Linked DNA regions of Homo sapiens. The gene in region 1 interacts genetically with each later gene. Each region holds a gene or a part of one and is shown in the gene's direction. Other genes may lie near its edges.

Region 1 (7,416 bases):
ATACAAGAGGTCTTCACAAAGTTTATGAAAAATGTGTATTATGAAAAAACTATGCATAGATTTCAAAAAATTTTTGCACCAAAATAAATTTGTACTAACTTGTTATAACATGTCTGAGCAGGATCTACTTTGAGGCACTATGAAGGATAAGACATTAGTTTGAAAAGAGCCCCTATAAGAGTAACATGAATTCTGCTAAAATTGAAGCAAGAACAAATATCAAGTTTATGGTTAAGCTTGGGTGGAAGAATGGTGAGATCATTGAAGCTTTACGAAAAGCTTATGGGGACAATGCCTCAAAGAAATCAGCAGTTTACAAATAGATAAATTGTTTTTTGTTGTTGTTTTTTGAGAGGGAGTCTCACTCTGTCACCCAGGCTGGAGTGCAGTGGCATGATCTAGGCTCGCTGCAGCCTCTGCCTCCCACGTTCCAGTGATTCTCCTGCCTCAGCCTCCCTGGGTAGCTGGGATTACAGGCGCCTGCCACCACGCCCGGCTAATTTTTGTATTTTTAGTAGAGATGGGGTTTTGCCATGTTGGCCAGGCTGGTCTTGAACTCCTGACCTCAGGTGATACACCTGCCTCGGCCTCCCAAAGTGCTGGGATTACAAGCATGAGCCACCGCACGTGGCCAGATAATTTGTTTTAAGAAGGGATGAGATTAGGCCGGGCTGTGCCTCTACTACAGACTCCTAGTATTTATTTTCTTTAAGAATACTTGGCCAGGCGTGGTGGCTCATGCCTGTAATCTCAGCACTTTGAGATGCTGAGGCAGGCGAATCACCTGAGGTCAGGAGTTCAAGACCAGCCTGGCCAACATGGTGAAACCCCGTCTCCACCAAAAATACAAAAATTAGCTGGGCATTGTGGTGGGCTCTTATAATCCCAGCTACCTGGGAAGGCTGAGGCAGGAGAACTGCTTGAACCCAAGAGGCGGAGGTTGCAGTGAGCCGAGACCACGCCATTGCACTCCAGCCTGGGCGACAGAGCAAGACTCCATCTCCAAAAAGAAACAAAATAAAGAAGGGATGAAATGATGTTGAAGATGAAACCCACAGTGGCAGACCATCCACATCAATTTATGAGAAAAACATTTTGTGTCCTAACTGAAGTGGATTGACAACAGCAGAAATAATAATCAATACCATAGGCATCTCACTTGGTTCGGCTTACATAATTCTGACTGAAAAACTAAAGTTGAGCAAACATTCCACTTGGCAGGTGCCAAACCATCATGCCCAGATCAGCTGCAGAGCTTTCAATGGGAATTTTAAACAAGCAGGATGAAGATCCTGAAGCATTTCTTTGAAGAATTGTAATAGGAGATGAAACATGGCTTTACCAGTACAATCCTAAAGACAATGCACAATCAAAGCAATGGCTACCAAGAGGTGGAAGTGTCTGGTCAAAGCAAAAGTGGACCAGTCAAGAGCAAAGGTCATGTCATTCGTTTTTTTTTTTTTAATGTTCAAGGCATTTTGTTTATTGACTTTCTGGAGGGCCAAAGAACAATAACATCTGCTTATTATGAGAGTGTTTTGAGAAAACTAGCAAAAGTTTTAGCAGAAAAATGCCTGGGAAAGCTTCACCAGAGTCATTCTCCGCTATAACAATGTTCCTGCTCATTTCTCTCAGCAAACAAGGGCAATTTTGCAAGAGTTTTGATGGGAAATCATTAGGCATCCACCTTACAGTACTGATCTGGCTCCTTCTGACTTCCTTTTGCCTTTTTTTTTTTTTTTTTTGGAGACAGAGTTTTGCTTTTGTTGCCCAGGCTGGAGTGCAATGGTGCGATCTCGGCTCCCTGCAACCTCTGCCTCTCCAGTTCAAGCGATGCTCCTGCCTCAGCCTCCTAAGTAGCTGGGATTACAGGTGCCTGCCACCACACCTGGCTAATTTTTTGTATTTTTAGTAGAGACAGGGTATCACCATGTTGGTCAGGCTGGTCTTGAACTCCTGAACTCAGGTGATCTGCCTGCCTCAGCCTCCCAAAATGCTGGGATTACAGGCATTAGCCACTGCACCTGGCCCTTGTTTTCTAATCTTAAAAAACTCTTTCAAGGGCACCCCATTTTTTCTTAGGTTAATAATGTATAAAAGAGGCTGCCTTATCCTTACAAGCAGCCTGCCCTCAACTCTCTCTCAGAGTGTTAAAAAAAAATGTATAAAAGGGCCAGGCATGGTGGCTCATGCCTGTAATCTCAGCACATTGGGAGGCCCAGGCAGGAGGATCACTTGAGCCCAGGAGCTGGAGACCAGCCTGGGAAACATAAAGAGATACTGATCTCCACAAAAAATTTTTTTAAAGAATTAGCTTGGCCGGGCGCAGTGGTTCACGCCTGTAATCCCAGCACTTTGGGAGGCTGAGGCGGGCAGATCACGAAGTCAACAGATCTAGACCATCCTAGCCAATATGGTGAAACCTCGTCTCTACTAAAAAAAAATACAAAAATCAGCTGGGAGTGGTGGCGCACACCTGTAGTCCCAGCTATTCAGGAGGCTGAGGCAGGAGAATCGCTTGAACCTGGGAGGTGGAGGTTGCAGTGAGCCAAGATTGCACCACTGCATTTCAGCCTGGTGACAGAGTGAAGCTCTGTCTCAAAAAAAAAAAAAAAAAAAGAATTAGCTGGGCACAGTGGCATGTCTGTAGTCCCAGCTACTTGGGAGGCTAAGCAGGAGGATTGCTTGAGCCCTGGAGTTTGAGGCTGCAGTGATCTATGATAGCACTACTGCACTCCAGCCTGGGTGATGGAGTGAGACCCTATCTCAAATAAAATAATAATTATAATAAAGACTGCCAGGCACATGGTGGCATGCACATGTGGTCCCAGCTATTTGGGAGGCTGAGGTGGGAGGATCACCAGAGCCCAGGGAGGTTGAGGCTGCAGTGAACTGTGATTGCACCACTGCACTCCAGCGGGGCAATGGGAGTGAGAATCTGTCTCAAAAGTAATAATTATATATATATATATTTATATATATATATATATATATATATATATATATATATATATATATGTTCTAGTATTTTCCTCCCATACCTCCAATGTATAATATCTCATGCACCCTGTGGTCCACCCCCCAAAGACATACACACAACACTTTAGAGTCTCTGATGTAGTCAAAGGGAGTCATTGGAGGTTCTGGAACAGATGACAGGCATGGTAGCAGTTGATTCACAAACTGAAAGCTGAGACATCAAAGAACTGCGACTGCCTTGGAATGTTTCCCATGTGCTAGCCACCGCCTCAGTGCTTTATACATAAATCAGTTAATCCCTATAGCAAGCCTCCATTGTGAATACCATAATTATCTTAACAGACGAGGAGACTGAGGCACAATGAAGTTAAGAAACTTTCCTAGAGTCACACGAAATTGGTGGGGGCCTACTTTTTTTTTTTTTTTTTTTTTTTTTTTTTTTTTTTTTTGAGACTGAATCTAGCTCTGTCGCCAGGCTGGAGTCCAGTGGCGCGATCTCACCTCACTGCAACCTCCGCCTCCCGGATTCAAGCGATTCTCCTGCCTCGGCCTCCCCCCACTAGCTGGGATTACAGGCACTCGCTGCCACACCCAGCTAATTTTTGTATTTTTAGTAGAGACAGGGTTTCACCATATTGGCCAGGATGGTCTCGATCTCCTGAGCTTGTGATCCGCCCACCTCGGCCTCCCATAGTGCTGGGATTACAGGCCTGAGCCACTGCGCCCGGCTGGGGGCCTACATTTGACCCCACGTGGTGGTTTGGGCTCATAGTCCATGTGCTTAACCACTAGTGGGTAGGCAGGGAGCCAGTGTTCTTTCTCTCCTGTGACTTTGGTGAAGTCTCTCACCACTCAGTGTTGTCGTGAGCATGCTAGGCAGAGTGCAAGAAAGGAGCAAGAACTCACTAATGGCTAGGCCTTCCCTGTGTCTCTGTAATTGATGGGTTTGGGTTTTTTTTCCTTTCTCTCTCTCTACCTCCTCTCTCTCTTCTTCATCCTCTCTCTCTCACTCTCCCCCTGAGATAAGGTCTTGCTCTGTTGCCAGGGCTGGAATGCAATGGAATGGTGTGATCATGGCTCACTACAGCCTCAATCTCCTGGGCTCAAGGGATCCTCCCACCTCAACCTCCTGAGTAGCTGGAACCACAGGCATGCACCACCTCGCCCGGCTAATTTTTTATTTTTTGTAGAGAGGGGAGTTTCGCCATGTTGCCCAGGCTGTTTTCGAACTCCTGGGCTGAAGTGATCTTCCTCCCTCAGCCTTCCAAGGTGCTGGGATTGCAGACGTCAGCCACCGTACCAGGCCAACGGGCTCGGTTTCTATGGTTTTGTGGGGAGACGGCTGAGGGAAGGTCGGCTTCCGGCGTCGCGCTGCAAACGTCTCGCTGAGGTCATCCTTTACGGCAGGCGTCCGCGTCGCTAGCTAGTCGTTCTGAAGCGGCGGCCAGAGAAGAGTCAAGGGCACGAGCATCGGGTAGGTAGGGGCTGCTTATGTCCGCGCGGCAGCTTAGCTTAAGGACCTTCCTTCCGAGGTCTCTTTAACAGATTTCCTCTTGGCTTGCTGTGTGTCCCCTTCTCCCAGACCTGAACTCAGGGCGTGTTCCCTGCCCTCCCAGGCCGCTTCACCTCCACAGCTAATGGCACCGAAGCCTGGAGATTGCCGCTCTCTCCACTTTCCACATTTGTTTAGGTTTTTGCCGGACTAATGTTTTGGCTTTCTGTTTCTTAACCTAAAGTCTACGATCCTTATCCCAGCTTTCCAGGCTCTGCGTGATTTCGGCCCCGCCGGCCTCCTGAGCTCATTTCATTCTTTTCACCGTCATGCACGCTGCGCTCCATTGTCCCCCAAACATAGCCAGCACTTCCGGCTGTAACTCCGGGCTGTTGCCCAACTGGAACACTCTGCCCACTGATCTTCACTTGGCGAACTCGCAAGCCATGTTAAAGGCATTTTCAAGTCTCCGGGCAGAGTTCGTGCTTCCTCCTTCGAGCTCTTACCCACTCGTGTTCCTTGCAGTGTATTCGCAATTCCGAGTGTGTGTCTCTGGTGCTTACGTTGGAGCTGCTTTCCCCCGCATCTGAGTGCCTGGAACGTAACTACTCAGTAAATGATGACTGAGGGATGGGAAGGAACTTAAGAAGTTAAATTCACCTTTTTGTTGAGATGGAGTTTCGCTCTTGTTGCCCAGGCTGGAGTGCAGAGTGGCGCGATCTCGGCTCACTGCAGCCTCTGCCTCCCGGATTCAAGCGATTCTCCTCCCTGAGACTCCCGAGTAGCTGGGATTACAGGCATGCGCCCCCACGCCCGGCTAATTTTGTATTTTTTTAGTAGAGAGAGGGTTTCGCCATGTTGGTCAGGCTGGTCTTGAACTCGCGGCCTCAGGTGATCCGCCCGCCTCGGCCTCCCAAGGTGCTGGAATTACAGGCGTGAGCCACTGCGCCCAACTAAATTCACCTTTAAATCTACCATGAGTACACATTTATATTGATATTTGTGGGTGTGCGCGCGCTTCCTTTCAGTCATTTTAGGCAGTCAGGGTTTGTTTTTGTGTGTGTGTTTTTACATTTAACATTATTATGTATTTGCATGTAAATTTTTTTCCCTACTGTCTGTAATAGTCTACAAAGTAAGTCTTAACCCATTTCTTTCGCTCTGGTTTTTTTTTTTTTTTGAGACAGGATCTCGCTTTGTTGCCCAGGATGGAGTGCAGTGGCCAGGTCATAGCTCACTGAAGCCTTGAACTCCTGGCCTCAGTCTCCTGCCTCAGCCTTAGGAGTAGCTGGGACTACAGGCGCACATACCACCACAAGTGCCTTTTTTTTTTTTTTTTTTTTTTTTTGAGACAGAGAACCTGACCAAAGGATCCAAATTCTTTTTTTCTTCTTCTTCTTTTTTTTTTTTTTTTTTTTTTGAGACAGAGTCTCGCTCTGTCGCCCAGGCTGGAGTACAATGGCGGATCTTGGCTTATTGCAACCTCTGTCTCCCCAGTTCAAGCAGTTCTCCTGTCTCAGCCTCCCGAATAGTTGGGATTACAGGCATGTGCCAACACGCCCAGCTAATTTTTTTGTATTTTTAGTAGAGACGGGATTTCACCATATTGGCCAGGCTGGTCTTGAACTCCTGACCTCAGGTAATCCACCCGCCTTGGCCTCCCAAAGTTCTGGGATTACAGGCATGAGCCACCGCGCCTGGCCCACAAGTGGCTGATTTAAAAAAAAAATTTAGGCCAGGTGCAGTGGCTCACACCTGTAATCCCAGCACTTTGGGAGGCCAAGGCGGGCGGATCACCTGAGGTCAGGAGTTCAAGACCAGCCTCGCCAACATGCTGAAACCCCATCTCTACTAAAAATACAAAAATTAGCTGGGCGTGGTGGTGCGCACCTGTAGTCCCAGCTACTTGGGAGGCTGAGGCAGGAGAATCGCTTGAACCCTGGAGGAGGAGGTTGCAGTGAGCCAAGATTGCACCATGCGCTGCAGCCTGGGTAACAGACGGAGACTCCATCTCACGTGGTAGGTGAGCCACCGCTCCTGACCGAGAAAGGATTTCTATGCATTGTTCTTTAGTTATAGTTCTCTTTTCCTTGAGTTTTGAAAAAGCGCAAAAACTGCTTATCTGCCATAAACTGGAAGAACCTATTTAATGAAAAAGTTTGGTGAGAAGAAATCAGGAGAATAATATCAAACAGTGTTCTAGAGGGCTACTTAGCATGATTATCTAATTTTTTCTTAGAAATTTCTCAGTTGATTGCCCTCTTGTGGTATTTTATTTACTTATTTTTTTAAATCTTCCATTACAGCCATGCCTTTCTTGGACATCCAGAAAAGGTTCGGCCTTAACATAGATCGATGGTTGACAATCCAGAGTGGTGAACAGCCCTACAAGATGGCTGGTCGATGCCATGCTTTTGAAAAAGAATGGATAGAATGTGCACATGGAATCGGTTATACTCGGGCAGAGAAAGAGTGCAAGATAGAATATGATGATTTCGTAGAGTGTTTGCTTCGGCAGAAAACGGTAAGGAAATGATGGAGGTGGAAGCTGAATTACTTTCTTGTTCCTTTGGGACTCTTTTTTTTTTTTTTTGAGACGAAGTCTCACTCTTGTCCCCTAGGCTGGTGTGTGATGGCGCCACCTCGTCTCACTGTAGCCTCTGCCTCCCAGGTTCAGGCGATTCGCGTACCTCAGCCTCCCGAGTAGCTGGGATTATAGGCACCTGCCACCACGCCTGGCTAATTTTTGTATTTTTAGTAGAAACGGGATTTCACCATGCTGGCCAGGCTGGTCTTGAACTCCAGACCTCAGGTGATCCGCCCCCCTCAGCCTCCCAAAGTAGTGGGATCACAGGCATGAGCCACCGTGCCTGGCCTCCTCTGGGATTACTCTTAAGTGTTTTTAGTGGGTCATTGAGCAGTGGCTTGCCAAATGTGAATTGGCA
Region 2 (7,452 bases), on another chromosome or scaffold:
CAGGCGTGAGCCATCGTGCCTGGACCAGATGTAATTCTTGTAAATTTACCCTAGTAAATGGTTTTAAAGAATGGATTGAGAATAATCCGCAATTTTCTAGGGAGGAAATGTATCCTTTACAGGGACATTGCCTGATTGTCTGTGGGGAGTAGAGTATATGTAGAGTGGTTGTTAGGACTGAAAATGATTATTACTGAAACAGGATGTGAGAGATTATAATGAGTTGTCCACTATTTATAATGTCACACAGGAATTCTGTTTCATCGCTGAGTGACACTCTTTTGTTGCAGGCCCCTTCCCTTTCATCCAAGACAACATCTCATTCTATGCAACAATTGGTGTTTGTCTCCTCTTCATTGTCGTTTTAACCCTGCTAATTTGTCACAAGTACAAAAAGGTAAAAGCAAAGGTAAAAATTCATTATTCTTTCCTCTATCTGCAGAACTGCCTATTCCTAACTGACTCATCATTTCATCTCTGAAGCAATTTAGGTATGAAAGCCAGCTACAGATGGTACAGGTGACCGGCTCCTCAGATAATGAGTACTTCTACGTTGATTTCAGAGAATATGAATATGATCTCAAATGGGAGTTTCCAAGAGAAAATTTAGAGTTTGGTAAGAATGGAATGTGCCAAATGTTTCTGCAGCATTTCTTTTCCATTGGAAAATCTTTAAAATGCACGTACTCACCATTTGTCTTTGCAGGGAAGGTACTAGGATCAGGTGCTTTTGGAAAAGTGATGAACGCAACAGCTTATGGAATTAGCAAAACAGGAGTCTCAATCCAGGTTGCCGTCAAAATGCTGAAAGGTACAGTATAGTGGAAGGACAGCAACAAAGATGCACAAAAATGGGAGGCACAGTTTCCCACCCATGCCTTCTTCTCTTTTCCATCCTTTTAATGGTTACTGTTTGCCATGTTTCAAGGCTAAAAATGGAGTGGATTGGGGTGTCAACCCAGTCATGAATACAAAATTCAAGTCATAAATACAAAACTCCACCTCTTCTTCCACTTCTCTCTTTGTTTATTTTTATTTTCTTTTATTTTTTTGAGACAGGGTCTCACTCTGTCACCTAGGCTGGAGTACAGTAGTGTGATCATGGCTCACTGCAGCCTCCACCCCCTGGGCTCAGGCTCCTCAGCAGCTGGGGCTACAGGCGTGCACCACCACGCTCAGCTAAGTTTTTTATTTTTGGTAGAGACGGGGTTTCACCATGTTGCCTAGGCTGATCTGGGACTCCTGAGCTCAAACTATCTGCCCGCCTCGGCCTCCCAAAGTGTTGGGATTACAGGCGTGAGCCACTGTGCCAGGCCTATTTAGTTTTTATAGGCTTTGATATTTGGGGATACAGTTGCCACAGGCAGAAGTTCTTTCTTACATTTGTGTTGTTTTATTTTTAGAGACAGGATCTTGCTCTGTTACCCAGGCTAGAGTGCTGTGATCATAGCTCACTGCAGCCTCGACCTCCTTGGCTCTAGCAATGCTCTCACCTCAGCCTCACAGGAGTGTGCCAAGACAATTGGCTAATTTTTTTTTTTTTTTGTAGATACGGTGTCTCACCATATTGCCCAGGATGGTTGCAAACTCCTGGCTCAAGTGAGGCTGCCTTGGCCTCCTAAAGTGCTGGGATTACAGGTGTGGGTTGAAACAGACTCTGGGTAGGAGAGAAAACTGGGGCCCTTTGTATCCTCACTTCGTTGCTCCATCCATTCCGATCTGGCGTCCAGCCCCATTGCTGGCCTCACCGTTACCACCGCTGACCCAGCAAAAGCATCTCCAGCTGGCTCTCTTGCTAAGGTCAACAGTGACTTCAAACCAAACCAAGCCTAATGGATATTTTTCAGTCCTCATTACTTGATTGTTCAGCATGAATTGATGCTGTTGATTCTTCTCTCCATCCAGAAGCTTTCTTTCTTTGGGTTTTGTGTCACCATATTCTGGTTTTCCTCCCACCCCTCTGCCCTTCTCAGTCCTTTGTGGGCTCATCTTCTTCCATCCAGCTTTTGTTGTTGTGGCTGATTTTGAAACTCAGTCCTTTGTGGGCTCATCTTCTTCCATCCAGCTTTTGTTGTTGTGGCTGATTTTGAAACACAGCCTTGCTCTGTTGCCCAGGCTGGAGTGCAGTGGTGTGATCTCAGCTCACTGCAACCTCCACTTCCCAGGCTCAAGCCATCCTCCCACTTCAGGCCCCTGAGTAGGGGGGACTACAGGCATGCGCCACCATGCCTGGCTAATTTTTGTATTTTTGGTAGAGATGGGGCTTCGCCATGTTGCCCAGGCTCCATCCAGCTTTTTATGGGGCATCCCTGTGGGCTTGCTCCTGGACCGCCTTGCGTTTTCGCTCCACACACTCAACACAGTCCATCCCCACTACACCCGTGATGTCCTCCCATACACCAAGGGCCCTCATGCTTGCGTCTCCTTTCGGAGCTTCAGGTTCATATGTTAAATGTTTGGATGTCTCAAAGGTCCCTTTAACACAGTGTATGCAAGGTGAATTCCCCTAACCCTGGCCCTGCACCAGCAGTCCTCTCTGTGACTGGTAATGAATGCCAGTGAATAAATAACCACATTCTATATAGTTGGGCACACTAGAAACCCGTGACTTTTCCTTGACACCTTCCTCTTTCTAACACCCTGTGAGCTAATCCTATCAGGTTTCCGATTAGTGTCTCTTGATTCCATCCTCGTCCCTCCATCTCTATGACCACCACTCTAGTTCAAGGCTCTCTCCTGGACAAAAGCTTCCAAAGCAGGTTCCTGTATCCACTCTTGCCTCCCTTTGGCTTCTCCATACTGAGGTCCAAGTGACAGTGGCGAAAGGCTAAGCAGATCAAATGGCTTTCCTACTTCACATTTCCTCCACCACCCGCATGGCTGGGCCACCGCTGCCTCCCCACCTCTTGCTCTCGGCACCCCAGAGCGCTGGCCTTCTTTCAGTTCCCCCAGCACTGTCCTCCCACCCACTGTGGGGCCTTTGCACAAGTGGATCCTTCTGCTTCCCCTTCCCCTTTCATGTAAGTATCTCCCACTGCCCCCTCAGATCTCAGCTTAAACACCACTTCCTCTGTCTCACACCACAGACAATATTGAGGCCCTTGCAATGTGCGACATTAGCTCTCTGCAGGCTTTCCCCCGTAGAATCCATCACCTTTGTCATGACATTTTTTAACATCCAATTGTTGTCCCATCTGTCCAGTAGCCCCTGTGCCTCATGAGGGCAGGGTCTGTGTCTGTGGTGCTGTGCTCTCTCCTTTCTCGACCTTTGCCCACTCTTTCACAACCCTCAGCACTGTTCTCCTCCCCTTCCACCATGAGTCACCTGGCCAGCTCCCATTTTTCTTCAGGACTCAGTTTAGACATTGAATGCTCCTTTCTCCACCCCTCCAAGGCTAAGGTAGCTATCCCTTTTGACCCTACAGTACCCCTGCACTCCTTTGCCACGTTGCATTTTTTCTTCTTTTTTTGAGACGGAGTCTCACTCTGTCGCCCAGGCTGGAGTGCAGTGGCACCATCTCAGCTCACTGTAAGCTCCGCCTCCTGGGTTCACGCCATTCTCCTGCCTCAGCCTCCCTAGCAGCTGGGACTACAGGCACCCACCACCACGCCCGGCTAAATTTTTTTGTATTTTTAGTAGAGACAGAGTTTCACCGTGTTAGCCAGGATGGTCTTGATCTCCTGACCTCGTGATCCGCCTGTCTCAGCCTCCCAAAGTGCTGGGATTACAGGCATGAGCCACCGTGCCCAGCCCAACGTTGCATTTTTTCTTTTTCTTTCTTTTTTCTTTTTTTGAGATAGGGTCTCACTCTGTCACCCAGGCTGGAGTGCAGTGAAGTCATCATAGCTCACGGCAAGCTTCAAGTCCTGGGCTCAAGTGATGGTCTGCAGCCTTTCCAGTAACTGGAACTACATGCAGGCACCACCAAGCCCAGCTAATTTTTATTTTATTTTATTTTATTTATTTATGTATTTTTACTTTATTTTATTTTTAAGTAGAGACAAGCTCTTGCTATTTTGCCCGGGCCTTTCTTGAACTTCTGGGTACCAGCAATTCTCCCGCTTGTCTCAGCCTCCCAAGATGTTGGGATTAGAGGCGCGGGGACCCACGTCTTGCCTGCCGTATTGCATTTATGGCACTGTATTGTCATGGCTTATTTACTTCTCTGCCTTCTCCAGGAGACTCTAAGATCCAGGAAGACAAGGGTTGTGTCTTGTTTTTCCTTCATTCCCCAGTGTCTAGGACATTGGCTCTTACAGAGTAGGCACTCAATAAATACTTGTTGAATGACTGAATGAAAGAGGTAATGGTACATGAAAATGCTTAGAAGAAGCTAAGCATGCTAAAAAATGTAAGATATTATTTTAGCCATGAGGAATAGGACATGAACAAGTAAAGCCCCGAATCCCTGTCCAGCGTGAAGCTGAAGACATGATGTATTAGGGGGTCCCAGTGCCCACAGGAAATCCCACCCCCAAGCTAAAATCTTGGAAACAAGGATACCCCTGAGAGCTTGCCCAAACCAAAATAGAGGATGTCAGCACCGGAGAAGCCACTATAAAGGTTAGGATGCCTTCCTGGACAAAATAATGGAACCTGGCAATCGAACCAAATCTTCACTGAATGTAAAGAAGAGTTACTATATCTGGAAGAAAAAGTCTGTTCACAGAGGGGTGGTGCCTGGAGCCTGGAGAGGGAAGTCCAGAGACCCTGCCCTTGCCCCTGTGGCTGCCCGGGCTGCCCTGACCAACTGCACATGAGCCGCAATGACGGGAGCCCTTGGATTCCATAGTGACTTTCCTCACACTGTGCTTCTAAGTCAGCTTATAAGTACAGTTTGCTGAGCTATCTGGAATTTTCCCTAGAGAGAGAATGCATTGGCCAACCAATATGTTCTAGCCTGCTTGGCAGTTTTATTTCTCAATGTCAATTAATGGGTCTCTTGAGCACCTGATAGTGGGAATTAGTCCTCTTTGACCTTCTCCCATTGGACTTGCTGGCAAATCTAATGTTCTAGACCTGAGGGCCACAGGCTAGAGTCAACCATGCTCACGACACTGTTATCTCTCTCTGACTACAACAGATCCAAGAGTTCAAACAAACAAACAAAAAGGACGTTTCTCCCTTCTGTTAACTTGTACTGAGGAGGAAAAGCATGTGTTATTATTTTGTTTGTTTGTTTTGAGGGCCAACTGTAAGGATTTTTATTTTGGTAGGTAGAGGAAAGTCCTGTTGAAAGGTGCATTACCAGATTCAACATTTATACTATAGTCTTTGTTTTGTTTTGTTTTGTTTTGTTTTTGAGACAGAGTCTCGCTCTGTCACCCAGGCTGGAGTGGTGCAGGGGCTCAATCTCGGCTCACTGCAACCTCTGCCTCCCCAGTTCAAGGGATTCTTTTGCCTCATCCTCCTGAGTAGCTGGAATTACAGGTACGCACCGGCACGCCCGGCTAATTTTTTGTATGTTTAGTAGAGACAGGGTTTCACCATGTTGGCCAGGTTGGTCTTCAACTCCTGACCTTAAGTGATCCACCCGCCTTGGCCTCCCAAAGTGTTGGGATTACAGGTGTGAGCCACTGCGCCCAGCCCTATACTACAGTCTGAATTCTGCCTTAGGCTGGGCATGGTGGCTCATGCCTGTATTCCCAGCACTTTGGGAGGCGGAGTTGGGAGGATTGCTTGAATCTAGGAGTTCAAGACCAGCCTGGGCAACATGGTGAGACCCCATCTCTACAAAAAATATAAAAATTAGCTGGGCATGATGGCCTGTGCTTGTAGTACCAGTAACTTGGAGGGCTGAGGTAGGAGGATCACTTGAGCCCAGGAGGCAGAGGCTACAGTAAGCTGAGATCATGTCACTACACTCCAGCCTGGGTGACAGAGTGAGATACTGTGTCAAAAAAAAAGAAAGAAAGAAAAGGAAAAAAAAAAAAGAAAAAGGAGAAATTCTGTCTTAAAACACAGGATATTGTTTGTTTGTTTATTTATTTATTTATTTTAAGATGGAGTTTCACTCTTGTTGCCCAGGCTGGAGTGCAATGGTGCAGTCTCAGCTAATTGCAACCTCTGCCTCCCACATTCAAGCGATTCTCCTGCCTCATCCTCCCAAGTAGCTGGGATTACAGGTGCCTGCCACCACGCCTGGCTAATTTTTGTATTTTTAGTAGAGACGAGGTTTCACCATATTGGCCAGGCCAGTCTTGAACTTCTGACCTCAAGTGATCCACCCACCTCGGCCTCCCAAAGTGCTGGGATTACAGGCATGACCCACCATGCCTGGCTTCTCTCATAATTTTGAATTTAAATAAATAATGCAGATTGACTCTGAGCTGAGAAAAATTTTATTTAATGACATAAAATTCGTATTTTACTTGAGTTTTACATTTTTAATGCTCCTTTCTTTGACAGAAAAAGCAGACAGCTCTGAAAGAGAGGCACTCATGTCAGAACTCAAGATGATGACCCAGCTGGGAAGCCACGAGAATATTGTGAACCTGCTGGGGGCGTGCACACTGTCAGGTAACCCACTTCCACGAAAATCACCTCATCAAAAAGACTGTAGCTTGATGACAAAGAGGATGTTTGCTCTCTCTCTCTCTCTCTCTCTTTTTAATTCTTTGTCTTTTCTCAGTCACAGTGTGAACTCTCAAACCCAAGTGGAATTAGACACTGAGCACTCTATAAATCAGAGGGGTCAAAATAAAGAATGCCTCATTCATCTGCTTTATCGTGATATATTGCATAATTCTCACCTGCTTAAAAACAACAACAACAACAACATTGCAAGTACATTTGGTGGTGTCTGTGCTTCTCTCCCAGCTTGGAAGCTGGTGCACAGGCGTGGTGAGAGTGGTTACAGAGCCTGGCCACTGCCCCAGTTGGGCTGCCGTCAAATACGGCACAGCCTAGCTAGGATATCAGACTTTACTTTCCCAGAATTCTCTGGGGCATGCCCTCTGATCTTCTCTCTTCTGCCTAGAAATACCCAAATGATGTGCCCAAGGTTCATTCTTTCTGCAGCAGCAGGCCTGGGGCTGGTACTAAAAGAAAGGAAAAAGAGGAAAGTGAATCTGAGAGAGGACTGGGAATATATTTCTCCCTCCTCAAGCAAACAGCAAATCAGCATATAGTTACCAAGTGTTCACCTATAATACACAGCTAGAACATTACTTTCAGTTGCCAACTGGAGAATCCAGGAGGCCAGTGGTATTGGTGAGGCCACACATACAAAAAAGGGCCACAGAGAATGTCAAGAAGATGCTGCTTTCCAAAGAAATTTGAGCAAAAGCTGAAACTGAATTTAAAGTATAAGAAGAGCTAGGCTCAGAAAAAGTTGTACTGTCCCCAAGTCAGCAGAGAACCAAGCCCTCCTAAGAGTATGTTGTCTGCTACATAGACTTCTGAAATAACAGTTTGCTTTGTGTATGCCTATAATTGAAACTGTAACTATT

The links.
Region 2: changes in NDUFS5 (region 1) and FLT3 together harm fitness less than expected from each alone (positive genetic interaction), as found in Homo sapiens cells (one study listed by BioGRID).

What each region holds. Positions count from the first base shown.
Region 1 is NC_000001.11:39,021,946-39,029,361, forward strand, and holds the start of NDUFS5 (NADH dehydrogenase [ubiquinone] iron-sulfur protein 5), read left to right. Parts: upstream 1-4,404; 5' UTR 4,405-4,457; intron 4,458-6,777; 5' UTR 6,778-6,779; coding exon 6,780-6,995; intron 6,996-7,416. UniProt on the Homo sapiens protein: Accessory subunit of the mitochondrial membrane respiratory chain NADH dehydrogenase (Complex I), that is believed not to be involved in catalysis. Complex I functions in the transfer of electrons from NADH to the respiratory chain.
Region 2 is NC_000013.11:28,027,246-28,034,697, reverse strand, and holds part of FLT3 (receptor-type tyrosine-protein kinase FLT3 precursor), read left to right. Parts: intron 1-290; coding exon 291-397; intron 398-483; coding exon 484-616; intron 617-706; coding exon 707-811; intron 812-6,409; coding exon 6,410-6,520; intron 6,521-7,452. UniProt on the Homo sapiens protein: Tyrosine-protein kinase that acts as a cell-surface receptor for the cytokine FLT3LG and regulates differentiation, proliferation and survival of hematopoietic progenitor cells and of dendritic cells.